7 linked regions of the Homo sapiens genome follow. The protein of the gene in region 7 interacts with the protein of the main gene of each other region in a biochemical or structural test. Each region holds a gene or a part of one and is shown on either strand. Other genes may lie near its edges. The genes, in order: ESR1, RELA, HNF4A, CARM1, PML, FOXO1 and CREBBP.

What was found.
Region 1: the proteins of CREBBP (region 7) and ESR1 form a complex in vitro, tested with the Homo sapiens proteins (2 studies listed by BioGRID).
Region 2: the proteins of CREBBP (region 7) and RELA form a complex in vitro, tested with the Homo sapiens proteins (9 studies listed by BioGRID and IntAct).
Region 3: the proteins of CREBBP (region 7) and HNF4A form a complex in vitro, tested with the Homo sapiens proteins (4 studies listed by BioGRID, with this or other methods).
Region 4: of the proteins of CREBBP (region 7) and CARM1, one has a biochemical effect on the other in vitro, tested with the Homo sapiens proteins (4 studies listed by BioGRID, with this or other methods).
Region 5: the proteins of CREBBP (region 7) and PML form a complex in vitro, tested with the Homo sapiens proteins (2 studies listed by BioGRID).
Region 6: the proteins of CREBBP (region 7) and FOXO1 form a complex in vitro, tested with the Homo sapiens proteins (3 studies listed by BioGRID, with this or other methods).

Annotation. Positions count from the first base shown.
Region 1 is NC_000006.12:152,097,526-152,101,327, forward strand, and holds part of ESR1 (estrogen receptor), read left to right. Parts: intron 1-1,206; coding exon 1,207-1,441; 3' UTR 1,442-3,802.
Region 2 is NC_000011.10:65,655,853-65,660,016, reverse strand, and holds part of RELA (transcription factor p65), read left to right. Parts: intron 1-219; coding exon 220-351; intron 352-1,194; coding exon 1,195-1,299; intron 1,300-1,517; coding exon 1,518-1,730; intron 1,731-4,081; coding exon 4,082-4,162; intron 4,163-4,164. UniProt on the Homo sapiens protein: NF-kappa-B is a pleiotropic transcription factor present in almost all cell types and is the endpoint of a series of signal transduction events that are initiated by a vast array of stimuli related to many biological processes such as inflammation, immunity, differentiation, cell growth, tumorigenesis and apoptosis.
Region 3 is NC_000020.11:44,430,682-44,433,761, reverse strand, and holds the end of HNF4A (hepatocyte nuclear factor 4-alpha), read right to left. Parts: 3' UTR 917-3,080; downstream 1-916. UniProt on the Homo sapiens protein: Transcriptional regulator which controls the expression of hepatic genes during the transition of endodermal cells to hepatic progenitor cells, facilitating the recruitment of RNA pol II to the promoters of target genes. Activates the transcription of CYP2C38.
Region 4 is NC_000019.10:10,912,730-10,916,985, forward strand, and holds part of CARM1 (histone-arginine methyltransferase CARM1), read left to right. Parts: intron 1-1,147; coding exon 1,148-1,325; intron 1,326-3,677; coding exon 3,678-3,768; intron 3,769-3,966; coding exon 3,967-4,048; intron 4,049-4,256. UniProt on the Homo sapiens protein: Methylates (mono- and asymmetric dimethylation) the guanidino nitrogens of arginyl residues in several proteins involved in DNA packaging, transcription regulation, pre-mRNA splicing, and mRNA stability.
Region 5 is NC_000015.10:74,032,215-74,036,470, reverse strand, and holds part of PML (protein PML), read right to left. Parts: intron 3,900-4,256; coding exon 3,756-3,899; intron 3,316-3,755; coding exon 3,057-3,315; coding exon of another isoform or gene 3,049-3,056; intron 1,994-3,048; coding exon 1,941-1,993; coding exon of another isoform or gene 1,815-1,940; exon of another isoform or gene 1,300-1,814; coding exon of another isoform or gene 520-1,299; exon of another isoform or gene 465-519; coding exon of another isoform or gene 411-464; exon of another isoform or gene 77-410; intron 1-76.
Region 6 is NC_000013.11:40,558,642-40,562,897, reverse strand, and holds part of FOXO1 (forkhead box protein O1), read left to right. Parts: exon of another isoform or gene 1-209; intron 210-2,037; coding exon 2,038-3,375; 3' UTR 3,376-3,389; intron 3,390-3,863; 3' UTR 3,864-4,256. UniProt on the Homo sapiens protein: Transcription factor that is the main target of insulin signaling and regulates metabolic homeostasis in response to oxidative stress.
Region 7 is NC_000016.10:3,764,958-3,769,213, reverse strand, and holds part of CREBBP (CREB-binding protein), read left to right. Parts: coding exon 1-40; intron 41-1,304; coding exon 1,305-1,494; intron 1,495-4,256. UniProt on the Homo sapiens protein: Acetylates histones, giving a specific tag for transcriptional activation. Mediates acetylation of histone H3 at 'Lys-18' and 'Lys-27' (H3K18ac and H3K27ac, respectively).

The sequences.
Region 1 (3,802 bases), on a different chromosome or scaffold from region 7:
AAATTTTTCTAAGACCTTCTCTTGGTCCTGCTACTCATGATACATATTTCTTTTAAAAGAAATTTCAAACTAGATAATAGTTGTTCTCCTCCCCACCCCCGCCACCAGTAGTGTGGTGGGGCAGCAGAGTTGTGGCTAGTGGAGGAGAGCAGAGGAGGAGAGTAGGGAAAGGAGAATGCCATTTGCCTACATTTCCCTCTGCCCATTTCCCGCTGCCCATTTCCCCCCTTGTTTTCCTGAACGTGAACTGAGCTCTGGGCACTGTTTTAGGCCTAGCAGGGGACAGGATAAAGCCTGCTTCTCTAGGAATTCGCACTGAGGGTGTGAGTGTGTGCACGTGTGTGTTTGGAGGCGGGAGAATAAACACAAATAAATAAAAAGGAGAATTTCAGGCAGTGATAAGAGTGCTGAGAAAAACAGAACGGTGTGAAAGAGGAAGGCTGAGCCTGCAGAGGCTTGAGGCTGCTGCCACTGGGTAGCGGTAGGCCTTTCCGAGGAGGCGGCATTTGAAGACCGGAGGAAGGTTCATCCCAGCAAGTAGGAACAGCAAGTGTAGGTCCCCTAAGTCTTGGGGGAGCTTAGTTCCTTTAAGGGCAGCACAAAAATCAGTGTGGCTCCGGAGAGCACATTAGGGGAGAGAGGCAGGAAGAGCTTGGAGACATGGATGGAAGCTGGACCAGTTGGGCCTTGTTGAACATGGAAAGGCATTTAGATCGTATTCTGAGTTAAATGGGAAGTGACGTGAGAGATTTAACAATGGAGCGTCTTGAACTGCTTTACTCATTTAAAATACCCACTCCTGCTTGGCTGAATATCTCATGTTGTCTTTTTAGAAGCTTTGGCGATCCTATTTGAATGCATTTAGGTCCTATTGGAGGGGAATAGGATCTCATTTGAGGCCACGGAGGTCCATGGAAGTCACCTGCATAGCAAATACCCTGAAAGTGGCTGCAGGGAGAGTGTGAGGGTGGGACCGCCCTGGTAGGAGGTGGAAAATGAAAAACACACGGCCATGAGTTCCAGATTAGGGCTTCTGAAAGCCCTCAGCTTTCCCAGCTCCCATCCTAAAGTGGGTCTTTAAACAGGAAGAAAGAAAGATTGCTAAGTGTCTTTGGAGTTCCTCTTCCTTCCCCTTCTAGGGATTTCAGCACTCCTGGGGCTCGGGTTGGCTCTAAAGTAGTCCTTTCTGTGTCTTCCCACCTACAGTAACAAAGGCATGGAGCATCTGTACAGCATGAAGTGCAAGAACGTGGTGCCCCTCTATGACCTGCTGCTGGAGATGCTGGACGCCCACCGCCTACATGCGCCCACTAGCCGTGGAGGGGCATCCGTGGAGGAGACGGACCAAAGCCACTTGGCCACTGCGGGCTCTACTTCATCGCATTCCTTGCAAAAGTATTACATCACGGGGGAGGCAGAGGGTTTCCCTGCCACGGTCTGAGAGCTCCCTGGCTCCCACACGGTTCAGATAATCCCTGCTGCATTTTACCCTCATCATGCACCACTTTAGCCAAATTCTGTCTCCTGCATACACTCCGGCATGCATCCAACACCAATGGCTTTCTAGATGAGTGGCCATTCATTTGCTTGCTCAGTTCTTAGTGGCACATCTTCTGTCTTCTGTTGGGAACAGCCAAAGGGATTCCAAGGCTAAATCTTTGTAACAGCTCTCTTTCCCCCTTGCTATGTTACTAAGCGTGAGGATTCCCGTAGCTCTTCACAGCTGAACTCAGTCTATGGGTTGGGGCTCAGATAACTCTGTGCATTTAAGCTACTTGTAGAGACCCAGGCCTGGAGAGTAGACATTTTGCCTCTGATAAGCACTTTTTAAATGGCTCTAAGAATAAGCCACAGCAAAGAATTTAAAGTGGCTCCTTTAATTGGTGACTTGGAGAAAGCTAGGTCAAGGGTTTATTATAGCACCCTCTTGTATTCCTATGGCAATGCATCCTTTTATGAAAGTGGTACACCTTAAAGCTTTTATATGACTGTAGCAGAGTATCTGGTGATTGTCAATTCATTCCCCCTATAGGAATACAAGGGGCACACAGGGAAGGCAGATCCCCTAGTTGGCAAGACTATTTTAACTTGATACACTGCAGATTCAGATGTGCTGAAAGCTCTGCCTCTGGCTTTCCGGTCATGGGTTCCAGTTAATTCATGCCTCCCATGGACCTATGGAGAGCAGCAAGTTGATCTTAGTTAAGTCTCCCTATATGAGGGATAAGTTCCTGATTTTTGTTTTTATTTTTGTGTTACAAAAGAAAGCCCTCCCTCCCTGAACTTGCAGTAAGGTCAGCTTCAGGACCTGTTCCAGTGGGCACTGTACTTGGATCTTCCCGGCGTGTGTGTGCCTTACACAGGGGTGAACTGTTCACTGTGGTGATGCATGATGAGGGTAAATGGTAGTTGAAAGGAGCAGGGGCCCTGGTGTTGCATTTAGCCCTGGGGCATGGAGCTGAACAGTACTTGTGCAGGATTGTTGTGGCTACTAGAGAACAAGAGGGAAAGTAGGGCAGAAACTGGATACAGTTCTGAGGCACAGCCAGACTTGCTCAGGGTGGCCCTGCCACAGGCTGCAGCTACCTAGGAACATTCCTTGCAGACCCCGCATTGCCCTTTGGGGGTGCCCTGGGATCCCTGGGGTAGTCCAGCTCTTCTTCATTTCCCAGCGTGGCCCTGGTTGGAAGAAGCAGCTGTCACAGCTGCTGTAGACAGCTGTGTTCCTACAATTGGCCCAGCACCCTGGGGCACGGGAGAAGGGTGGGGACCGTTGCTGTCACTACTCAGGCTGACTGGGGCCTGGTCAGATTACGTATGCCCTTGGTGGTTTAGAGATAATCCAAAATCAGGGTTTGGTTTGGGGAAGAAAATCCTCCCCCTTCCTCCCCCGCCCCGTTCCCTACCGCCTCCACTCCTGCCAGCTCATTTCCTTCAATTTCCTTTGACCTATAGGCTAAAAAAGAAAGGCTCATTCCAGCCACAGGGCAGCCTTCCCTGGGCCTTTGCTTCTCTAGCACAATTATGGGTTACTTCCTTTTTCTTAACAAAAAAGAATGTTTGATTTCCTCTGGGTGACCTTATTGTCTGTAATTGAAACCCTATTGAGAGGTGATGTCTGTGTTAGCCAATGACCCAGGTGAGCTGCTCGGGCTTCTCTTGGTATGTCTTGTTTGGAAAAGTGGATTTCATTCATTTCTGATTGTCCAGTTAAGTGATCACCAAAGGACTGAGAATCTGGGAGGGCAAAAAAAAAAAAAAAGTTTTTATGTGCACTTAAATTTGGGGACAATTTTATGTATCTGTGTTAAGGATATGTTTAAGAACATAATTCTTTTGTTGCTGTTTGTTTAAGAAGCACCTTAGTTTGTTTAAGAAGCACCTTATATAGTATAATATATATTTTTTTGAAATTACATTGCTTGTTTATCAGACAATTGAATGTAGTAATTCTGTTCTGGATTTAATTTGACTGGGTTAACATGCAAAAACCAAGGAAAAATATTTAGTTTTTTTTTTTTTTTTTGTATACTTTTCAAGCTACCTTGTCATGTATACAGTCATTTATGCCTAAAGCCTGGTGATTATTCATTTAAATGAAGATCACATTTCATATCAACTTTTGTATCCACAGTAGACAAAATAGCACTAATCCAGATGCCTATTGTTGGATACTGAATGACAGACAATCTTATGTAGCAAAGATTATGCCTGAAAAGGAAAATTATTCAGGGCAGCTAATTTTGCTTTTACCAAAATATCAGTAGTAATATTTTTGGACAGTAGCTAATGGGTCAGTGGG
Region 2 (4,164 bases), on a different chromosome or scaffold from region 7:
GCCCATTCAGTACTCTCCCACTTTACCACTGGGAAACTGAGTCCCAGGAGGGGACATGACATTCAGGCCACAGTGGAGTCAGTGCTGGGTTCTGCCTCCTCTAGGACTTGTGTTTCACACACGCACCAGCGGCCCTCCCAGCGCAGAGCTCCCTGCCCCCACTGATAGCACCTATATCCCCACTTCCCCTGCTCTCCTGATCGCCTGTTTTCTTGGCAGTTCCTATAGAAGAGCAGCGTGGGGACTACGACCTGAATGCTGTGCGGCTCTGCTTCCAGGTGACAGTGCGGGACCCATCAGGCAGGCCCCTCCGCCTGCCGCCTGTCCTTTCTCATCCCATCTTTGACAATCGTGAGTAGCGAGGGAGACGCAGGAAGGGGAGAGGGTGGGCCTGAATAGGAGGAAGGGGGTTGGGGTGAGTGTGGCCTGCAAGAGGCGCTCTGGCTTCATTCAATCATCTTGCGTATTTGTCTACTCTTCTCTGCCCAGCTCTTTGTTGGCTGGGGAGAGAGGGCAAAGAAGACCCAGAGCTGTCCTTGAGGTGTAGCTCTGGCCTGGCAGGAAGTCTAGCAGAGAGTCTGATGGGAGATGGGCATTTTCAGTATTGTGTGATGAGAAGGTGGTGTGCCCACAACTGCGATAATGACTCTAGGAAATGAACTCCCAGGAACAAGATAGTGTTCGAGAATGATGATTCAGTGATGGAAGCCCACAGATGAATTGGGCTGACTGATCAGCTGCAGTCTTTAGTTAAGTAACCAGCAGGATGAATGGAAATAAAACGAATCTGGAGCCCCAAGGATGGGAAACCAGGATAAACTGGGGGTCAGGAGGGAAGGGCTCATTGCCAAGGTGGGTATGGACTGGCCTTAAAGATTGCTTTGGTCAGGTGGAGAAAGAGTGTGATCAGATTGGCACCCACTGGACTATAAGCTCCGGGAGAGCAGAGAGGTTTGGGTTTTGTGTGTGGTCGTATTCTTGCTTAGATCAGTGTTGAGTGCACAGTAGGCAAATACTTGTTGAATCGGTTGGGGTGAGGAGCTAATAAGAAGGTCTGACTTTGGCTACAAAGGTGTAGGTGGCAAGCTCTGGGCAACCTTGACTCTGGGCTGGGCAGGGAAGTTGCATCTCCTGCAGGCCACCCTGGGGACCTCTCGTGGCTCAGGTCATCCTCCCTTGTTTTCACTGCCTCAGGTGCCCCCAACACTGCCGAGCTCAAGATCTGCCGAGTGAACCGAAACTCTGGCAGCTGCCTCGGTGGGGATGAGATCTTCCTACTGTGTGACAAGGTGCAGAAAGGTATACATCAGGAGGCAGGGGTGGGCTCTTGGGAGCAAGGGGTGAAGCTGAGCAGAGAAGTGGAGTGTCAGGTAACTGGCTTTGGATACTTCCTCCTGTGCCTCGGGGGCCTCAGGTGGGCCGAAGGGTGATGTATCAGAAGACAAGCATCAGAAGTTGAGGGGGAGACCATGGAGGGTTAGACACACTGACCCACACTGCCACCGCATCTCCTGCAGAGGACATTGAGGTGTATTTCACGGGACCAGGCTGGGAGGCCCGAGGCTCCTTTTCGCAAGCTGATGTGCACCGACAAGTGGCCATTGTGTTCCGGACCCCTCCCTACGCAGACCCCAGCCTGCAGGCTCCTGTGCGTGTCTCCATGCAGCTGCGGCGGCCTTCCGACCGGGAGCTCAGTGAGCCCATGGAATTCCAGTACCTGCCAGATACAGGTACACAGCTGGGGTGGCAGCATCAGGGCAGCTGGGCTCTGTGCCGTGAGAGAGAGGCCAAGACTGCATGTCTGGGGCTGTGGTTGAGGGCCAGAAGCTGGAGTCAGAGCTTGGGATCCAAGAAACTGGAATCCATTTCTTGCCTCATTTAATAATAATGATACCTCAGACATTGAGCTAGTACTACACATCTGCCCCTATTCCAGGCACTTCACTGGATTACCTGATTTTAATCTCATGACCCTTTTGAAGTAGGAGATAGTGTCCAACTTGCCTGGGTTCACGTGGCTAGTAAGTAGCAGAGTCTAGCAGAGTCAGCGTTGGAACCCAGGCCATCTGGCTTCAGGATCCTTTTGCCACACTGGTTGTCTTGTCACTACCATACAGCCCAGCCACATTTTGGTCGAGGTTTGAGTGTCCACTTGGTACCAGGGCCTGTGCCAGGTATTGTGAATACAAAAAATGAGTAAGACATGCTCCCTGCCCTTCAGAGTCTCAGTCACTTGAGGAAGACAAATGTGCAAAACAGATCCTTAAGTCACGGAATGACATGTGAAATGGAGGTGTGCGCAGAGAAGCACGGGGGCACAGTGGCCTCCGGGGAGCTGGAGACAGCTGCATGGAGAAGGTGGCATTGAAGCTGGAGAAAGACACAGAAGTGTGTTCTCCAGGCAGGTGGCCCAGCACCTGGAAGGGAAGGGGTGTTGGCAACTGCACGGCCTATTCAGGGCCACCTTCGTGGTTTGAGCTGATGTTGGGCAGTGAGCAGGCTCAGAGATTGGAGGGCCTGGTTAAGCTGAAGGCCTCTAAGCAGAGAGGTGACAGGAGCAGATTTGGAAGTTGACTCAGGAGGCCACGTGTAGAAGATCAGAGACAGACAGACTCAAAGCAGGGAGGCCATTCTGGAAATGTTGCTGTAGTCCAGGAAGAGAAGATGCGGCACAAACCTTACAGAAGGAATAGCAGAGCAAGATCACATCTCCACCACTGTCCTCAGTTACCCTTCAGCCCTGCAGCCGTTTTGCGTCTTACAGACCAAGCTCAGTCTCACCTCAGGACCTGTGTCTAGCTGTTGCCTCTGCTTGGAATGCCCAAGGTTTTAATGCAAGTGGCTCATGCCAGTCCTTCCCTGACCTCTAAATTAGCCCTTCCCTCTACATTTAGACTGTCCTGACCTCACTTCCAGTATTGTTACATCACCATATCGTCCCTGGACCACCGTCACTTGAGATTTTCTGGTTTGGTTTTGTTTGTTTGTTTGAGACAGAGTCTCACTCTTGTCGCCCAGGCTGGAGTGCAGTGGTGCAATCTCGGCTCACTGCAACCTCCACCTCCCGGGTTCAAGTGATTCTCCCTGCCTCAGCCTCCCGAGTAGCTGGGACTACAGGCGCCCGCCACCACATCCGGCTAATTTTTTGTATTTTTAGTAGAGACGGGGTTTTCACCATGTTGGCCAGGGTGGTCTCGATCTCTTGACCTCGTGATCCACCCGCCTCGACCTCCCAAAGTGCTGGGATTACAGGCGTGAGCCACCACGCCTGGCCGAGATTTTCTGGTTTGTATATATGATTGTGTCCCTCTCACTTTTTCACTAGGATGCCAACTTTTTGGGAGCAGACACCTTGTGTGCATACTCACGGCCACATCCCCAGTGTCTAGAAGGGAGGCTGGCACATAGTAGGTGCTTGATAAATATATGTCAAGTTACTGGCGGGGAGTGAGAGAAAAGAAGATAATCATTCCAAGGTTTCTAGCTTTGGTGACAGGGCAGATGGCGGATGGTCAGGGAATGCAGGAGAAAGAACCTAGTTTTTGAGGGATGATGAGGTTGTCTTTGAATTGATGGAATTGAAGTGCTTTGGAGCTACTGAAATACCACTGTAATTAGAAAGACAGTTCTGAAAGCTCTGACTAAAATATGAAACCATTAGAGATAAGAATAAGAGTCTCTGCTGAAGTCTTAAGGCAGTTGTGCCTCAGCTGCCCCAGAGTGCCAAGAAATTCTCGCCAGGCCTGGGTGGAGGCTGACAATGAGCCAGGATGTGAGCAGTGCAGGAAGGTGTGAGCTGGAGGCTGGGGCCCCCCAGGTCTCCTCTTTGCCCAGAGCATGGCCCCTGTACTCGGCCTCACCATGTGGTCTTAGAGGGGCAGATTCAGCCAACAGAGGCCTCCAAAAGCTGTGGGATTCTCAGAACTGCTGAGTGTCACACATCCCTTCTCATTGGCAGAGAAGGTTGGGAGAATGGGTCTTGGGAAAGCCTGGCTCCTCCCCTTCCTCCTGAGGGACCTTTGAGAGCGTCGGGGACCCACCTGAGGAGAGCAAGTCCCACTTCTCCCCCTTACTTTCCCAGACGATCGTCACCGGATTGAGGAGAAACGTAAAAGGACATATGAGACCTTCAAGAGCATCATGAAGAAGAGTCCTTTCAGCGGT
Region 3 (3,080 bases), on a different chromosome or scaffold from region 7:
AAGCCCAGTGGCTACAGATCTGGCTGGAGATTCTCAAGTGCATCTCTTGCTTTTATTCTTTTTACTTATTATTTATGTTTTGAGACAGAGTCTTGTTCTTTCATCCAGGCTGTAGTGCAGTGTTGCATTCATAGCTCACTGCATCCTCGAACTCCTGGGCTGAAGCAATCTTCCCACCTCAGCCTTCAGAGTAGCTGGTACTATAGGCACACACCACTATACCTGGCTAATTTTTAAATTTTTTGTAGAGATGGGGTCTCCTTATATTGCTCTGGCTGGTCTCGAACTCCTGAGCTCAAGTGATCCTCCCGCCTCAGCCTCCCAAAGTGCTGGGATTACAGAGGTGAGCCACTGTGCACAGCCTTGTTCTAGAAAAAAAAACAAAAAACAAAACAAAACAAAACAAAAAAACCACTTGCTTTTATGAAATGTCCCCACAGCTACTCATCTTCCATTGCTGGCAGATTGAGGTGACCCAGCAAAAGGTTCTGTCTTGAACCTTGGTGGAGGATGACAGACCCTTGGACCCTCTTGCCATTCTTCCAGATCTTGCCATTGCACTCTCCCCTCATCACTCCCCTCTTCAAGAAGGGGGATCAACTTTCACTCTCTCGATATACTAAGTACTTGGAATCAAGAGACCAGGGTTAGATGTCCACCTCTGCCTTCCAAGAGAAGTCACTTCCCCCAAGCCTCAGTCTCCTCATCTGGAAAGTGGGAGTAATCATGTCTAACTGCTTACCTCTTGATGTGAAGACTGAAAAATTATAATGGACACAAAAACATTCTGCACATCACAAAGAACTATAAAACTATTCTCATTCTTCCTTTAAAAAAAATTTTTTAACCCCCAAGTAGAACCAGAAGATTCAGTCTTATTTCTGATACCTGAAAGAAAAGATACTTATCCAAGGACTTAGAAAACATATGCGCCATTTATTTTGTTTTATAAACTTTTGTTAAAACACAGAAGAGTAAGAAATGTTTTTTGTTTCTTTGCCCCATCAGGCGGCAGTGATGGGGGCTCAGGGGTCAGCGCAAGACCTAATGACATTCACACCCACAGAAAGATGTGGGTCGTTCTGATGGGACCCAGCCCGCTTTGATAATTGCTTGATGTAAATTTCACAATTCATCTTAATCAGGGCAGATCACAGAAAAATTTGGCAAAAGTAATTGGCTTGGTAATGACAAGAAATAGAAGAGCGTTCATTTCTGACCCTCTCCTCTCCTCTGTCCACTCTCAGGAGAGCCATGCGGATTTTTAGAAGCTCCTGAGACCCGCCTGAAGATCAGGGTGTCTTGGTGGGGAAATTGTGCCCACGCTTGTCCCCCCAGCAACCCTCTGTTTGTCCATCAGATTTTATGTTTTAGGACCACAACTCAAGTAGCCAAAAAAAAAAAAAAAAAAAAAAAAGAGAGCGAGAGATTTTCTAATATCATGTCAGCTTAGAGTCAAAAAAGTAAACTTTGTTTTGTGTTTCTCACATTACAATAAAGTTATTAAGGTGGAATGGGTTTCTCCTCCAGAAAGGGGTAGATTCCCAGCAGAGAACTGACCCCCTGCTCCAACAGATTGTTCCCATGAAGGGCCACTGTTGCCCACGGCACTCCATGGGACATTCTTATCTCAACCTTTCTCCCAAGACAGAGGTCTGAGCAACGCTGGAGGGAGGAGGTGGAGGAACACAGTGGGAATGACCACAATGCCCAGAAATGGTTCCAGCCTCCCTGCCTTACCGCAGACCAGGCTGAGCCGTCTGGCAGGGATTTCAGGGGCACTTGAGTGAGGTGGTGGGGGAAGGCTTGGGAGCTCTGAGCAGGGCACAGTCTCCGCTGGGATTGGGGGCTTGGCTGGGACTGCCGTAGGGATGTGGTGATTCCTCCCTGACACATTGCCCCAATACTTCTCCACGCCTCTTTCTCATAAAAAACAATCACTAATGGTGGGATTTCTGGGCACTGGGGCACTGCCTCCAACCACTCAGAGGGGTCAGTGTTGAGCAGGGGGCAGGAGTCGGTCCAACAGTTTCCCTCCTACCTAATCACACCTCCAGCCCCATAACACATCCCTTTTGTTCACACTGGTCAGTGGCATTTTCCAGAATGTCCTCAAAGCCACCAAGATTCCACATGGATGACATGCTGGTCGCTCCATCCTGGGGTCTAATGCTTCCAGAATGCACCTGGAGTGACGGTCTCCGGAGCAGCCCTCAAACCCAGGCCTGCTTAGCCCTCCCCTGCCCCCACACTGTGCACACTGTCCCACCCCCATGCCAACAGGCCAGATGAGCCTGACTTCCAGGAAACAGACCCCTGCCACCCCTCCCCTTGACTTGGGGAGTGAAGAGAGAAAAGCTGTCAAGAGTCATGAATTCTCCTTAATATTTATCAGCAAACAGGATGCTCGACCCTAAGTGAATTTTAGTGCAGCCTCAGGCCAATCTTGGTCCTGGGAGTGGGCAGGGTTCCCAGAAGAACGAGTCTGGTTTCTGAGGCTGTAGAAGGGAGCCGGAAGCCCCTCAACTTGATCACGGTGAGAACACAGGGAGCCTTTGGAGAAGCTATTCAGCCACTGTAGTTAAGAGCTCCTGTTCTGATCCAGGGAGACCTGGGTTCAAGTCCTGACTCAGCCACTTCCTAGTTGTGTGAGTTTCAGAAAAAAAATCACTTCACCTCTTAGAACGCAATTTCAGCTTCTGTAACAATCTCTAGGTTAGGAGGGAGTGGGGCGGGTGAGGGCGGGGAGGGAGGAGGAGAATAAAAAACAAAAACAATCTCTAGGTTAATAGGGAGGAAGGGAGGATTAAATGAGATGATGCATGTCAGATGCCTTAAGACAGTGCCTGGGAGTAAGGAAGAGCTTGAGACAGGCCCTGGGAGCTTATTCCTCCTGGATGTCACTCTGATGTGAGGGTTTACCCATCTTGTCCTCTCCAGCCCCAAGCCTCATTACTCTCACCCGCATTATATCATCCACCCCACCTGACCTCCCAGCTTCCAGCCTCCCGTCCTCTGCAGAACTGCTGTGTTCATTTTCTGGAAGCCCAGCTCCCTGCATACTCCTTGAAGCTGATCAG
Region 4 (4,256 bases), on a different chromosome or scaffold from region 7:
TCTCCCATGGATCTGGGGTCGCCGGGGTCGTGGAGGGGCCATCTTTGTTCTGTCTTGCCGCCGCAGAGCACCCCTGTGCCCAGCCGTGCCGCTGTTGCTTTAGCTGCATTGTGTCCGCAGCGACACTCAGACTCCTTCCAGGTCTTCACGTGGCCAACGCTGCTGTCCTGAGCCCCTCTCCCACATGCGGTTGTGTCTGTAGGACACACCCTAGCCCTGGAATCGCTGGGTTGGGGGTGCATCCAGCTTTAGCTTTGGTGGCTGTTGTGATGTCTGCTCGTCCCCCTCTTTGCAGCCACCAGCAGTTGTCGACGCAGGGTGGGGGACCTAGGAGGCCGCAGCAGGGGACGGCCCTGAGGCAGGGCCGGGGTCACAGTGAACTCTCTTTTTTTTTGGGGGGGGTCTCACTCTGTTGCTCAGGCTTGAGTGCAGTGGTGCGATCCTGGCTCATTGCAACCTCCACCTCCCGGGTTCAAGTGATTCTCCTGTCTCAGGCTCCTGAATAGCTGGGATCCACCACTGCAACTGGCTAATTTTTGTATTTTTAGGCCAGGCATGGTGGCTCACACCTGTAATCCCAGCACTTTGGGAGGCTTAGGTGGGCGGATCACCTGAGGTCAAGAGTTCGAGACCAGCCTGACCAACGTGGCAAAACCCCATTAGCCAGGCGTGGTGGTGGGTGCCTGTAGTCCCAGCTACTCGGGAGGCTGAGGTGGGAGAATCGCTAGAACCCGGGAGGCAGAGGTTGCAGTGAGCCGAGATGGCGCCACTACCACCTCCAGCCTGGGCAACAGAGTGAGAATCTGTCTCAAAGAAAAAAAAAATAGTTTTTTTTTTTTGGTATTTTTAGTAGAGACAGGGTTTCTCCATGTTGGTCAGGCTAGTCTCCCAACTTATGAGGTCAAGCAGTCCGCCTGCCTCGGCCTCCCAAAGTGCTGGGATTACAGGCATGAGGCACCGTGCCCGGCCCACAGTGAGCTCTTAACAGGCTATGGCCAATCGCAGCCATGGTTGGGGCGCCAGCGAAGCAGGCAGAGGGGCACCCAATGCCCATGTGTGGATGGAGGCTGTCCCTTGAGAGCAGGTCTAGGGAGGGCCCCATGGCAGGAAGACGCAGGGAAGCCCACATGGCCCTGCCCGCCTGCAGGTCTTGGTGAAGAGTAACAACCTGACGGACCGCATCGTGGTCATCCCGGGCAAGGTGGAGGAGGTGTCACTCCCCGAGCAGGTGGACATCATCATCTCGGAGCCCATGGGCTACATGCTCTTCAACGAGCGCATGCTGGAGAGCTACCTCCACGCCAAGAAGTACCTGAAGCCCAGCGGTGAGCACTGGGGGGTACACAGGCCAGGCCCCTCGGTGGAGGCCCTGGCTGCCGCTGAGCCAGGCCATCAGTGCTTCAGCTCCCTGCTTACTGTCGGTGGCCCGGGGTGTAGGGAAGCCTGGGCTTTTCCCCCGCTCCCACCCCAACCCCACTCCAGCCAGCTGTGGCTTTTGGAGCCCTGGGCCCCAAACACGGCCAGACACCCAGCTGCCCACTCGCCCAGACAGGGTACACAGGATCTCCTGGCACCTCTGCCGTCCCATGTCCTGCTCCTGCGGGACAGCCTCTGGCTGGGAGTGGGGATTGGGACAGGTTCTGTGGTCAGCAGTTCCCCAACAAGCCCTGCTCTCCTCACAGTCCAGGAGGTGGGGTGGGCGAGCATGTGTGCAAATGCAGGGGTGTGGGTGCGAGTGTACGTGTGTGAGGAGGTGAGGTAGCTGTCTGGCAAGCCCATCTGTCACTTCCCATCCGTGCCTCTGGGTATGGCCTCTGGTCACTGGGTGACTGTTTCTTTTTTTGAGACAGAGTTTCACTCTTGTTGCCAAGGCTGGAGTGCAGTGGTGCGATCTCGGCTCACTGCAACCTGCACCTCCCCAGTTCAAGCAATTTTTGTGCTTCAGCCTCCTGAGTAGCTGGGATTACAGGTGTGCACCACCACGCCCAGCTAAGTTTTGTATTTTTAGTAGAGATGGGGTTTCACCGTGTTGGTCAGGCTGGTCACGAACTCCTGACCTCAGGTGATCTACCCGCCTCAGCCTCCCAAAGTGTTGGGATTATAGGCATGAGCCACTGTGCCTGGCCTGGGTGACTGTTTCTATTTGCCCATCTGTCTTGGGGTCTGTGCAGCCCTGACGCCTGAGGCATGTGCCTGTGGCTCTTCTCATGCTAGGTATGTGAGCGTCTGAGCATTTCTGTACAGGCAAGCAGCTGTGTGTGCGTGTGGCAGGGTACAGGTCCCCAGCCAGGGTAGCAGCCATGGGATGGAGCGTGGGCAGCAGCAGGCTGGTGGGGCTTGTGCAGGCAGGGGCAGGGGGGAAGCTTCCACTCTCATCTCTGGCCCGCCCTGGATCCAGGCCCTAGGGTCCTGGCTGGCTGTGCTCCTGGAGGTGGGAGGTGGCGTCCCACAGCTGTGTCTCATGTCTTGGGTGTGAGTATGGGAAGCAAGGCTGCTCCAGGGGCTGTGGGCCCCACTCTCCTCCCCTTCTGCCCTGATGGTGGGGATGGGGGTGGGGACAGCCCCAGCAGAGAGGGCCCCTCCCGATGGGACATGAAGCCAGATGGCAGTCAGGCTCTGTGGGCAGCTGCATGTGCCCCCGACGTCCCAGCAGCCAGCTTGCAGGGAGGGGGGAGGCCAGGCCTGTGCAAGGAGGACTCCTGTCCAGCTCAGGAAGCTCTTCCAGGGGTTAAAGGCAGCCCTCCCCTCTCCCAGTCACATGTCTTCTGGTCAGCAGGAGCCAGAGGTTCCTTCCAGGCTGGGTCACTTCCCATGGTGCCCCCAGGTCCCCCAGGGCAGAAGCCGCAGCATGTGCATCTCCCTCCCCGTTCCAGCAGCTGCAGCCCTGCAGCTCTCGCCTCGGGTACAGCCTGGTGGCGTAAGGAGGAGGCAGAGTCCCACTGATACCTCAGGATCTCCTCCCCCAGCTTGCAAGGCTGGGGGGCCCACATCTGGAGGCCAGGTGCTCCTTGGGGCAGGCGGGGCTGCGGGGCCCTGATCCTCCCTGCCACTGGCCCTGACTCATGCGTCTACCCTTGAGTCACAGAGGGAGGCCCTGCCCTTCCCTCAGTCTGTGTGCCCAGACCAGGCAGGCCAAGTGGCCCATCCTGCCGGCTGGGTGCCTGTGCCAGAACCTAGGCAGTCCCTGTGGTGTGGATTTGGCTTCCCCCACCTGGCTCTTGGCCTCAACTGAGGTCCCCAGCGGCGTTGGGGTAGCCCGGGGCCCACCACCCTCCCTCTGTCCAGAGCAACTTTGCTATGCTTTCCCGGCTGCACACATGCACAGACGGCAGGGCCTGAGAGGCAGCGCCTGGCCACATCCCGGGCACTGCCTGCTTCCCCGTGAGTCTTTGGCAGGTCCCTCACACCTGCCAGGTCTAGTAATAGGACATAAAGATGAGCCACCAGCCTCCCAGTCTCAGGTGGAATTCGTGAGCTGGTGCAGGTCAGGTACCCGTGGTGGTGATGAAACACTGATCAGAATAGGCGCTCGGTGCCACTGTCACAGGAGTGCAGGAACGAATGGATGACAGGCTGGGAGCACCCAGGGTTGGGGGTCTTGGGGTCCTTTGGAAGCTCTGCCAGGCAGTGTGGGATGTGTCACCTGACGCCAGCACCCCTCCCTGCCCCACTCCCAGGAAACATGTTTCCTACCATTGGTGACGTCCACCTTGCACCCTTCACGGATGAACAGCTCTACATGGAGCAGTTCACCAAGGCCAACTTCTGGTGAGTGTGCCCTGGGTGTCCCGCCTGGGCCCCACAGCCTGCCTTCTCAGGGACAGCCCCAGCTCCCCAGAGAGCCTGCACTCCTCTTTTTCTGAAAGACTTGGGCTAGATGAGGGCTGACTGGGAGAGAAGGCAGGGCTACCCCACCTGCCTCTTCTGCAGCCCTGACCTTGCTGTGGGGGTGGGGCCTGTCCACAGGTACCAGCCATCTTTCCATGGAGTGGACCTGTCGGCCCTCCGAGGTGCCGCGGTGGATGAGTATTTCCGGCAGCCTGTGGTGGTGAGTAGGGCCTCCAGGGTACTGCTGCAGTGATCACTTGCCATTGCTGTGCAGCTGTGCAGCCCTCAGGAAGCTACAGCCCCTCTCTGAGCCCTCTCCTCTGCCCTGCACAGCGCTCTCACAGAGATTTGGGCCAAAAGTGTCAATGCATGTAGACACTTAGCACACAGCACACATGCAATACATGTGGAACATTATTAGGTGAGGC
Region 5 (4,256 bases), on a different chromosome or scaffold from region 7:
GAAGAGAGAACAGCCTGCAGGGAGGAGCTGGATCCATCGGAGAACGCGATGGTCGTGGAATAAGGGTTCGCAAGGGTGATGGTTCAACAAGTGTTTATTGAGCAGCCACATCTGCCAGGTCTTGGGATAGCCAGTCCCTGTGCTCATGGGCTTAGATCCTGGCAGAGGCCTAGTGGAGAGGCTTGGGGTGGGGGTCGGGGCATGGAAGGCTGTGCTATTGGCCAGGGACTCAGAATACAGGAGAGTGCAAGGGTGACAGAAGTTTCTTTCTTGGGCAAAGAGGCCTGGAATGGTGGCTTGAATCTCAGCCATGCCTTAGCCTTCCCCTCTCAGCCAGAGAAGACCCAGGTCTCCCTGCCCAGAGGTCCATGCATAGCCATTCATTCGTTGATTCATTCCTTAACCAAGAATTAATGAGTGCTACTCTGTGCAGGGCCTGTAAGAGCATGGGCTGGAGGAGGCAGCTCAGGGGCCGGGCAGGGGTGTTGGCTGCAAGGTTACAAGAGAAGGGTAGCACTCTCAGAGGCCTGCTTGACGGGCGCCTGGGACTGGGCTGATGGGGGGCCTTTCTGGGGCACAGGGTGGTGGGAATGTAATTGGAGAGGCTTCCAGAGGCACTTGGACTTGAGAGGCCTCCATGGAGCCTCTGACAGAGTCCCCAGGGGGAACACCTGCTCCAAGAGTCTGGGCTCTGCTTTCCCCTGCCCCCACCACGGAAGACATGTCAAGCTGGGAAGCCATGGAGGAGAAGGGGAGGGCAAAAAAGTTGTTGAGCCACTGGGATAAATGGGAGGAGCCCCGGAGGGAGCGGCTGCGGGATCGCACAGCCCCTCGTATCCGGTGGGGTGGGCTGATGCCCCTTTGCAGCTGGGCAGGATGTTCCTGGGCATTGGCAGGATGGTTGAGGGGCCCTGTGATGGCAGGAGTGCTGGCTTGGACCACATGGGGAGACCAAGTCCGAATAGGGGCCCGATGCAATTGAGGGTGCAAGCGGAGGGCATGGCGAAGGCGGATGGCTCTCTGTGCTCTGTACAACAGGTAGCGGATCCCACGGTGGACGGCAGGGCGCTCCTGGTGATCAGGAGGCTCGCTGTGAGGCTCAGCATCGGGGGTGGCAGCCTGCTCAGCGGGCTGGTGGGGAGGCCAAGCTGGGGGGTGGTATGTGCCACAGGGCAGGCTGGAGGCTCCTTGTGCTCTCAGCAGAGACTGGACTGGCGAGGAGTGGGCTGGCGAGGAGTGGGCTGGCGAGGAGTGGGCTGGCGAGGACTGTGGCTCGGCGGTCTCCATGGGCTCCATGCACTTTCCAATACAGAACCTCAGACTGAGGGCTGGAAGAGACCTCAGGGGCCACCCAGTCCAACCTTTCACTCTATTCAGATCCCCTTTTCCCCTGGACAGGTGATAGTCCAGCCTCTAGTAATAAACCTCTAGGGACAGAAGGGTCACTACCCACGAGGCCACCTGTTTCACTGTGGAATGGATTTATATATCTTTCTACATGGATGGAGTCAAACCTCACTTGTTTGGCCCCTATATAGCTGCCCTGTGGCCTGACACCCCTTCACTGGCCCCCACTGGCTGTAATAAACCAAGGAATGGATTCTTGTCCAGCCCTCCTCACTGAGGACTTAGAGGACAGAAAATGCATAAGGAAGCTCCAGACAAAGGTCTTGGACATTCCAGAAAAGAGACAGGGCTCTGGACACATGCTATCAGCATTTCAGAAGAGCTCCTGGCCCTGGTGTAGTGGGAGGGCTGGGGTGGTCCAGGCATGCAGCTGTCATTTGGAGACTGTCCTCAGCACAGCTTGGGACTCAATGCCTCACTGGAAAATTCCCCAGGCGCAAGGCAAGTCTGAGAGTCACCTGCTGTGGCTGTGCCCCCTGGGACCTGAAATGGGGGGAGGCAGGAGTCCTGGGCTGAACTTCTGGGCCACTCACCGAGTTTTCGGCATCTGAGTCTTCCGAGCTGCTGATCACCACAACGCGTTCCTCTGAAACGGGGAAGGGGAGATGCATTATGAACTGCCTAGGATGCATGCTGGGAGGGGTGTGGGTGTGCACCTATGGGAATCCTTGCAGGCCAGTCGGCTGGGGGAAACGGATGCCCTGCAGGGGGACGGGAACAGCCACTGTGTGTGCCAATGTGACTCTGCTTTGCATTTGGATTTGAGTAATTCACAAATGGGTTTCCATAATTTCTTGCTGTGCCTTATCTATGAATATTCAATTAAGTTATCTGCCCAGAATTCAGAATTTGCCCCCTGTACAGGAGGCCTGACAACTGCTACCTGGTCTGGAACCTTCTGCAATCCTAAAGAAGCACACTGTCCCCATTCTCAGCTCCATGAGCTGGGATGTCTAGAGTTAAAAGACGCTTCATTTAGTTAATCAAAACCCATCGATTACCAATAGCATTTGTGGGTAAGGAATATCAGTCAGTGCTCAGTGTGTGACCAAGGCTAGGGCTCAGTCAGAATGAGGAACAAAGCTGTACTCTGGGTGAAGCAGATCCTTAGAACTCTCTTGTTCCAGATTCCTCTGGGTTGACCTCAACTCCTGCCCAACTGACTACCTGCCTGGCAGTGTTCATAGAAGATAACTCTGACAAATGAGATACTTAGGTAGGTGGCCTTTGCAGAAACACTTGGGGAAATGATGGGTGTAGACTGAGAGAGCAGAGTTAAGGTCATGGGGAGTCCAGTTTCCTGTTATGGTATGCCCAAGCCCTCTCTGGGAGTATGCTAGGCATCAGCCAACAAACTTCTTGTGGAGACCTGCCCTGTGCAAAGGCACAGTAGTGTTTGGGAGAAAGGACTCATAGAACTGTGCATTTTAGCCTGTCAGGCTCCCCACACCTCAATCATGGCAAAACACATGGTAAACTGTGTCCACTCTCACCCCCACGCACACTGTGAACTTTCCCTATCTTATTCAGTGGGAATAAGGGACTCCTGTTGGCTTTGGGCTTTCTGGATGGGGCCAAAATACAGAAGAGGGGCACCGCCCAGACCCTGGCGGGCAGCACCCAGGCCACTGCCCTACCCACCTCCCTACCTGCCTCCCCGGCGCCACTGGCCACGTGGTTGCTGTTGGGCAGGAAGACCTCACTTCCTATGACGGGGCTCCTGGGGCTAGGCGGTCCATCCAGGTGGGGTGGTGAGACTGCCTTGGAGGTGCTGGGCCTGGGCTGCTCCGGGGAGCTCCGAGCCAACCTTGCCTCCTTCCCCTCCTCAGACTCCATCTTGATGACCTTCCTGGGGCACTGGGTCTGGCTGCACTTCCTCTTCTGGGCTGTCGTTGTATTGGAGACATCCTGCATAGAGGGAGTCACAGAGCCAGGTCAGGTGCCTGCAGGGGTGAGTGGGCAGAGCCTGCCCTGACTGCCAGGGACTTGTGGCCACCCTTTTGCTCCTGCTGTCCCCTCTCCTCTGCTCTCAACCACGCAGATTACGTCTCTCTTCAGACAGGAAGCCTTCCCAAGCTGGTACTATCTGCTGTCCACCAGTCTCTGCTGGCCTCTGACAACCCTGAGTGTCTCAGCACCCCTGCTGGGCTGGGAGTGGGCCATGCTTATGGGAAGCTCCCTGACCATGCAGCCAAGAACAGGGGAGAGCACAGAGAAGGCGTTGAGCAAACACTTTCCCACAAAGAGCTGATCTGATGAAGGCCTGGATTCCCACCCCAGTGCCAGCTCACTTTCCTGGTGGAACTCAGGCCTTCAGGAGGGAAGGCTGGGGCTGGGGAGAACCTTACCTCTCCATAGGAAGGGCCTTTGATGGAGAAGGCGTACACTGGCACGGGGTGTGCCCCGGGCACTGACTGTACCACAGCCATAGGCTGGGCTTCAGCCAGCCCCAGGGCCTGAACCTGGGCCTTCACTCTCTCTGCCTCCTCGGGCTGCAAAGTTGGGAAAATTGAGTCAGAAATGACTAGGCAGCAGCCCCAGGGCCAGGTACCCCAGACCTGTGGTTGGCCTAATCCCTGGGGCCTCACCAAGTCACAGGTCCAGGCTCCCTGACTCAAAGCTCCGAGCTCACTGGGGACAAGAAGTCCTCCAAACTCTCCATCACATCACCTCCTTTTTTTAAAAAAATTTTTTTGTAGAGACAGGGTCTCACTATGTTGCCCACGCTGGTCTTGAACTCCTGGGCTTGAGCAATTCTCCTGTTTCAGTCTCCCAGAGTGCTGGGATTACAGGCACGAGCCACCGCGACTGGCATCACCTCCTTCTGACTCTGAGTTACTGGAGCCCAG
Region 6 (4,256 bases), on a different chromosome or scaffold from region 7:
ACAAGGCCCTTCCTTCTGGGGAGCTCACAGCGTTTCCCTCGTCTCCTTTTCCACGTGTCCCACGGACTCCCCTGAACACCATCTTACTCTGTGTTGTAGAGGAGGTGAATCAAACCATGGCTTTCTCATCTGCAGCCTGGCTCTGGTGTTTCTGCTGAAACTTGGAGAGACCACCTCTGGCCCCTTTCACCATATATTTGCAGTTGTGGGTTTGTATCTGTACTACTTCTAAGCTCCTATACATACCACACTGAATAGGAATAGAGAAGCAGGACTTTGGGGCGCAGGATACCACTATTCTAAGTTGGGGTCTAATATTCCCTTCATGGTGACTGCTTACATGCCAGGCACCGCTGAGCATTTTTATGTATCTCATTTAGTACATGTAACAACCCTGATAAGGCTCTGTAATTTAGCCCTGCTTTACAGGTGAGGAAACTTAAGACACATTAGGGGCTAGGCAGCTTCCCAAGGTCACCTAGGTAAGTAAGTAGCAGAGCCACCCAGGAAGTACTCAAAAGAAAGATTGTTGGTTTTTCTTCCCTAGTTGGCCTAGGGATGATAAACATGGCATGATTAGTTATGAAGCTGCGGTAGCTTGAGAGTTAGAGCTCTTTGCGTTCTCTGTCATTTCTTCCCATCCCAGGTTGTCTGTTTGGACAGTGTAGCCCCTGGCTACGTGGAGGTGTGTCATGGAGTTAGTTGGTGCATCCTGCTCATACTACTGGTCATTGGTAGAACTGGAGGGTAGGGGCACTACTTGAATTAAAAAAAAATTTCTTTTGGCAGGTCAGCTTTCTCAAATACAAAAGCAATGACTCTGTTTTCCTTACATTCACTTGTATTTGCTTAATGGGCTTTAAAGGTGTGAATGAATCCAAGTCTTATTAATTTGGGGGCCTTTAATTCTTGATCAGCTCTATATTTCTATATTCTTTTTTTTTTTTTTTTTTTGGCGACAGAGTGTTTAACTCTTGTTGCCCAGGCTGGAGTGATCTCAGCTCACCGCAGTCTCCTTCTCCTGCCTCAGCCTGCCAAGTAGCTGGGATTACTGGCGCCTGCCACCACACCCGACTAATTTTTGTATTTTTAGTAGAGATGGGGTTTCACCATGTTGGCTAGGCTGGTCTTGAACTCCTGACCTCAGGTGATCTGCCTGCCTTGGCCTCCTACAGTGCTGGGATTATAGGTGTGAACCACCATGCCTGGCCTATATTCTATATTCTATATATTCTATATTCTTTTGTCTTTTTTGTTTCTGTAAGTATGTGGGCCCAGTAATATAAAACTTCTTTATGTAAATGGCACAGGTTCAAACTGAAGAGAATTGGCAGTAGTTTTAAGGATAGTAGAATGGAAGGGGTTTTTGATAGCACTTTGATACAGAGTACTATTGTAGCTAAGCAAAATTTAAGCGGTTATTAAAACCAATTCCTTTGATTTTTCCATAAAATGTAGCTGTATAAAAGAAGGTATTTACAATACTCTTTATTAAATTTTGTCCCTTCATTAAATTAAGATATAGAATTTTTTTTTTTTTTTTTTTGAGATCGAGTCTCACTCTGTCTCCCAGGCTGGAGTGCAGTGGCACGATCTCGCCTCACTGCAAGCTCCGCCTCCCAGGTTCACGCCATTCTCCTGCCCCAGCCTCCCGAGTAGCTGGGACTACAGGTTTGCACCACCATGCCTGGCTAATTTTTTGTATTTTTAGTAGAGATGGGGTTTCACTGTGTTAGCCAGGATGCTCTTGATCTCCTGATCTCATGATCCGCTTGCCTGGGCCTCGCAAAGTGCTAGGATTACAGGCGTGAGCCACCGCACCCAGCCACAGATATTGTTTTTAAGATAAGATACTATTTATTCCTGTGCTATTTGAGATCTTTTGTAGTGGCTTCAGAGCCATTAGGACTGTTCAGATGGAAATCTGTAGCACACACTCTTAAGATTTTTTACTTGTTTTCCATGTAATACATGTAGAATAGGAAGTTTTGCAAGCAGAGAAGTATTGTACTTCTAATAAGATGTTTTGCCTTACAGAATTCAATTCGTCATAATCTGTCCCTACACAGCAAGTTCATTCGTGTGCAGAATGAAGGAACTGGAAAAAGTTCTTGGTGGATGCTCAATCCAGAGGGTGGCAAGAGCGGGAAATCTCCTAGGAGAAGAGCTGCATCCATGGACAACAACAGTAAATTTGCTAAGAGCCGAAGCCGAGCTGCCAAGAAGAAAGCATCTCTCCAGTCTGGCCAGGAGGGTGCTGGGGACAGCCCTGGATCACAGTTTTCCAAATGGCCTGCAAGCCCTGGCTCTCACAGCAATGATGACTTTGATAACTGGAGTACATTTCGCCCTCGAACTAGCTCAAATGCTAGTACTATTAGTGGGAGACTCTCACCCATTATGACCGAACAGGATGATCTTGGAGAAGGGGATGTGCATTCTATGGTGTACCCGCCATCTGCCGCAAAGATGGCCTCTACTTTACCCAGTCTGTCTGAGATAAGCAATCCCGAAAACATGGAAAATCTTTTGGATAATCTCAACCTTCTCTCATCACCAACATCATTAACTGTTTCGACCCAGTCCTCACCTGGCACCATGATGCAGCAGACGCCGTGCTACTCGTTTGCGCCACCAAACACCAGTTTGAATTCACCCAGCCCAAACTACCAAAAATATACATATGGCCAATCCAGCATGAGCCCTTTGCCCCAGATGCCTATACAAACACTTCAGGACAATAAGTCGAGTTATGGAGGTATGAGTCAGTATAACTGTGCGCCTGGACTCTTGAAGGAGTTGCTGACTTCTGACTCTCCTCCCCATAATGACATTATGACACCAGTTGATCCTGGGGTAGCCCAGCCCAACAGCCGGGTTCTGGGCCAGAACGTCATGATGGGCCCTAATTCGGTCATGTCAACCTATGGCAGCCAGGCATCTCATAACAAAATGATGAATCCCAGCTCCCATACCCACCCTGGACATGCTCAGCAGACATCTGCAGTTAACGGGCGTCCCCTGCCCCACACGGTAAGCACCATGCCCCACACCTCGGGTATGAACCGCCTGACCCAAGTGAAGACACCTGTACAAGTGCCTCTGCCCCACCCCATGCAGATGAGTGCCCTGGGGGGCTACTCCTCCGTGAGCAGCTGCAATGGCTATGGCAGAATGGGCCTTCTCCACCAGGAGAAGCTCCCAAGTGACTTGGATGGCATGTTCATTGAGCGCTTAGACTGTGACATGGAATCCATCATTCGGAATGACCTCATGGATGGAGATACATTGGATTTTAACTTTGACAATGTGTTGCCCAACCAAAGCTTCCCACACAGTGTCAAGACAACGACACATAGCTGGGTGTCAGGCTGAGGGTTAGTGAGCAGGTAAGTTCACCCCAATATCAAAAGACCTTTTGAAAAATAGAACTTAAAAGCGAGGAACACAGTAACTTGCCATGGTTAGCACATCTTTGATGTCAACTGACTGTCCCTTGCAGAGAGGGATCTTTTATCATTCATTCTCTGTCCTTTTTGCAGCTTACAGTTTTCCTTCTGAGCTTACACAGAAGGAAGCTTCCTTTAACTGCTTTAAAGATTTCTTTTTGACAGTTCGATGGCTGCATCTTTTTAGTAGCTCTTCAATAAATGAATACATTTGATATAAATCAAATGCTGAAGGGTTTTTTGTAAAGTAGAATTTTCCCCATTGAATGATTTTAGAGCTGTTTGAGAAAGCTCTAGCTTTTTGCCCCTAAGTATGTCTGTCACTCTTAACATGTTAAGTTGAATTGATTTTAATTTGGCTATATTTTCATTGTGTGTGTATGTGTGTGTGCGTATGTATGTGTTTTTTCCTAGGTTACACTTAAAAGTACTTCAGATTGTCTGACAGCAGGAACTGAGAGAAGCAGTCCAAAGATGTCTTTCACCAACTCCCTTTTAGTTTTCTTGGTTAAAAAAAAAAACAAAAAAAAAAACCCTCCTTTTTTCCTTTCGTCAGACTTGGCAGCAAAGACATTTTTCCTGTACAGGATGTTTGCCCAATGTGTGCAGGTTATGTGCTGCTGTAGATAAGGACTGTGCCATTGGAAATTTCATTACAATGAAGTGCCAAACTCACTACACCATATAATTGCAGAAAAGATTTTCAGATCCTGGTGTGCTTTCAAGTTTTGTATATAAGCAGTAGATACAGATTGTATTTGTGTGTGTTTTTGGTTTTTCTAAATATCCAATTGGTCCAAGGAAAGT
Region 7 (4,256 bases):
GCCCGATCCTGGTGAATCCAAAGGGGAGCCCAGGTCTGAGGTGGGTGCCGCTCCCTAGGAATGCATTGACTGCGTATCGCAACTTTACCCAGGTGTCCTCGGGCGAGGCTTGGAGCCTGCCATGGGTATCCCTGACTTTAGTTAAAATATTCTGTTTGAATGTGGGTTCGGGGTTTGGTGTATAGGAAATTGATTGAAAACAGCTTGGTTTTTCATTTTTAAATATGAGGGGTGGGTTTATTTTGCCCGAAATGAAGAATACTGGCTTATATTTGAAATACTTGAATCATCCAACAGCCTTTTATTTTATGTTCTCCATTCATTTCTAGTTCTGCAGAGGTAGACTACAGAAGGGGTGGTGGATTCATTTACTAATTAACCTATGGCAGAAGCTGAAAGCTGGCAGACCGTGGGCTGGATCCAGCCTCTAAATGTGTTTGGCCCACACAATACCTTAAAAATCAGGAAATTGCAAATAAAACTCTAGATTTCTGGCTTTTCTTGAAAAATGAGATGCTTTCAGCATTGTGCCTGCATCCCTGTGTGACAGCAGTCTGGTTGTGAGCACCAACTGTAGTGGGCTCTCCAATTAGCCACAGTCCCCACTGCTCCTTCCTGTCTCATACCACACCTGCCTCTGAGAAGGACTTTTGGTCCCTGCCCCAACTTTCAAGGAGATTTTTATTCCAAATTAGAAATATCTGTAGTGAAAAATCTGAGTATGTGCAATTTTTAAAGCAGTTTTACATTTAAAAACTTTTAAATTAGGCTGGGAGCTGTGGCTCACACCTGTAATCCCAGCACTTTGGGAGGCCGAGGCAGGTGGATCACTTGAGGTCAGGAGTTCGAGACCAGCCTCGCCAACATGATGAAACCCCATATCTACCAAGAATATAAAAAATTAGCCGAGTGTGGTGGCACACACGTGTAATCCCAGCTACTCGGGAGGCTGAGGCAGGAGAATTGCTAGAACCCAGGAGGGGGAGGTTGCAGTGAGCCAAGATCTTGCCATTGCACTCCAGCCTGGGTGTTAGACTCTGTCTCAAAAAAAAAAAAAAAAAAAAAAAAAAAAAAAAACACTTTTAAATTTAGGACCATAATTGCACTGACTCTGTGCTGAAGCGACTTAATGAACACCAAGTACTTTATTTCTTCTTCCGGAAGAGAAGAGGAATCATAAATGCAACTCTGACTAGAGGAAGGTTTTAACAAACCTGTTTTAGGCTTGTAAGAGTCTTCCCGTGAGGTTGCGGTAACATAAAGGTGTTTGATATTCATATGTTATCTGTAATGTTTTTCTCAAGATGATGGAGGAGGATTTGCAAGGAGCTTCCCAAGTTAAAGAAGAAACAGACATAGCAGAGCAGAAATCAGAACCAATGGAAGTGGATGAAAAGAAACCTGAAGTGAAAGTAGAAGTTAAAGAGGAAGAAGAGAGTAGCAGTAACGGCACAGCCTCTCAGTCAACATCTCCTTCGCAGCCGCGCAAAAAAAGTAGGCCATTTATTCATTACCTTATTAAAGCATGCTGCTTTTCCACGGTGTTAGGATTCCATGTGGAGGATTAAAAGCTAAAGTAGAAACATAATTCTATCTGCCCTTTTACCTTTCTTGCCTGCCATTCCCCAGACTTTCCCCTGCAGAAACACTCAGGCTGAGCAGGACCCCTGCCCTGTGCCTGTGGGGCTCATGGCAGGAGTGAGAGATGAGCTGCTGCTCCGAGGGCACCCAGGCTGCAGAGCTGTCTTCTGATGGTGCTGGCAGGGGCCGAGTTGAAATGTGTCTGGGTCCTTGAGCAGGTTAAGGAGCTTGGCTTTACTCATAAAAGTATAAAGAACCAGTGATGTATGTGAGTAGGAGAATAACCAAAAAAGCCATAATTTAAGGAAGATGGTCATTATGACAGCACAGGGTGACTTGGAGGCAGAAGGTTTCTGCAGGTGCAGTGAGGAAGCTGAGCATGCAGAGTGAGGGGCAGGGTGGCGCCTAGGGACCCTGTGTAGTGAGACATGGGGGAGGGGTAGGTTAGGCATCTTTGGGGTCTGAGATGTGTGAGGTAAGCCCGCCTCACAGTGGAAGTTGGATGGAATCCATTTGAGATGTATCCACAGTAAAGAGATAACAGGGTATCAGAAAATTGTCAAGTGAACCTTAGAAATGGGAGACAGGACTCAGAAAGTCCAAGGCTGCAGATGACACTTTTGGGAAAGATTGCAGAGAAATGTTAGAGACTGAGACCATGTTACTCTGCAGCTGGAAGGGACCCTGGAGAGTGTGGAGTACAGTGAATCTCAGGGCTCTTTATACTCTTAGAAATTGAGGGCCCCAGAGAGTTGTTGTGTGGATTATCTATCATTGCTTACTCTACTGGAAACTAAAGTTGAGAAATTTGAGTACAGTGGCTTACACCTGTAATCCCAGCACTTTGGGAGGCTGAGATGGGAGGCTTGCTTGATGCTGGGAGTTCAAAACCAGCCTGAGCAACATAGCAAGGCTCCATCTCTACAAAACTAAAATAAAACTAGCTAAGTGTGGTGGTGCACGCCTATAATTCTAGCTGCTCGAGAAGCGGAAGCGGCAGGATTGCCTGAGCCTAGGAGTTTGAGGCTGCAGTGAGCCCAGATCACATCACTGCACTCTAGCCTGGGAGACAAAAGTGAGATTGTTGTCTGAAAAAAAAAAAGAGAAAAATTTTTAAATATTTAGTTCATTTAAAATAGTCTGTTACATGGCACCCATAGAAAACATTTATATGAAAAACAATTTTTCCAAAACAAAAATAAGTAAGAATAGTGGCGTTATTAAGGGTATCTGCCTCTGCATTTACTGTGTTGTGATTGGTTATTTTGGTTGAAGTGTATGAAGAAAATCCTGTAGTTGGTAAAGGGAGAAGTATTTTCGTAGCCCTTTCAGCTGATTGTGGATATTCTTTGATACTATACCAAAATTCAGCCAGTGAAGGTTTCTTAAAGGTTAGTTGCGACATTGAACCAGAATCTATAGCACTGGATTTTTCATAGTCTGTGACATTAGAATCCATTGATCCATCTTGTACTTGGAATGGATCTTTTGTGCTTGCATGATTTTTTTTTCAATTGACACTTAAGTTCTGCAGATTTTCCATATGTTGACATATTTCACTATACAGTGTCAAAAAAAAATCAACATTTGTTAATACCACCATCAGTCTCTTCAAACAAGTCTTACCAACTTAGAAAAGCAGGGCGTGCATGGTGGCTCACACCCGTAATCTCAGCATTTTGGGAGGCTGAGGGGGAAGGATTGCTTGAGCCCAGGAATTCAGGGTCTATGATTGCACCACTGCACTCTAGCCTGGAGCTCAGGAGTTCGAGAGCAGCCTAGGCAACATGGCGAAACCTAATCTCTATTAAAAAAAAATTAGCTGGGTATGGTAGTGCATGCCTGTAGCTGCAGCTACTCGAGAGGTTGAGGTGGGAGAATCACCTGAGCCTGGGAGGTCAAAGATGCACTGAGCCTTGATCATGTCACTGTACTCCAGCCTAAGTGACAGAGTGAGGCCCTGTCTCAAAAAATAATACTAATAATAAATTTTGAGAAGCTGTGAAGCCCATGTACAAGTTTTCCAAAGCATTTGATTTTTTTATGAAAGCCCAAATTTTAGCATTGGCAACAAATACTGTCAGTTGTCCTTGAAGTAACTGGCCCTCTTTGTTCATTTCTGAGAAAATGTCTGACATATAACCAGAGCTTAGTAACTATAGCTTATCTCTCAGTCATTCCTGAAAGTTTTAATGTGCTCCACGAGGGCAAGCAGCTACTTCAGCTGTAAATTCCAACACTTGCCCAAGTACTGCCTCCTGATGTGGCCACTGTGCCTATGCAGCGCACATCTTTTATTCTGTGTGAGGAGATAGGCAGAATGTTTCATCACACAGAATAAAAGACATGTACCAGGCGGCCAGACGCGGTGCCTCACACCTGTAATCCCCGCACTTTCGGAGGCCAAGGCAGGCAGATCACGAGGTCAGCAGATCAGGACCATCCTGGCTAATACGGTGAAACCCCGTCTCTACTAAACAAAATACAAAAAATTATGCGGGCGTGGTGGCGGGCGCCTGTAGTCCCAGCTGCTCGGGAGGCTGAGGCAGGAGAATGGTGTGAACCCAGGAGGCAGAGCTTGTAGTGAGCCGAGATACTGCACTCCAGCCTGGGAGACAGAGCGAGACGCCGTCTCAAAAAACAAAAACAAAAACAAAAACAAAACAAAAAAAAAA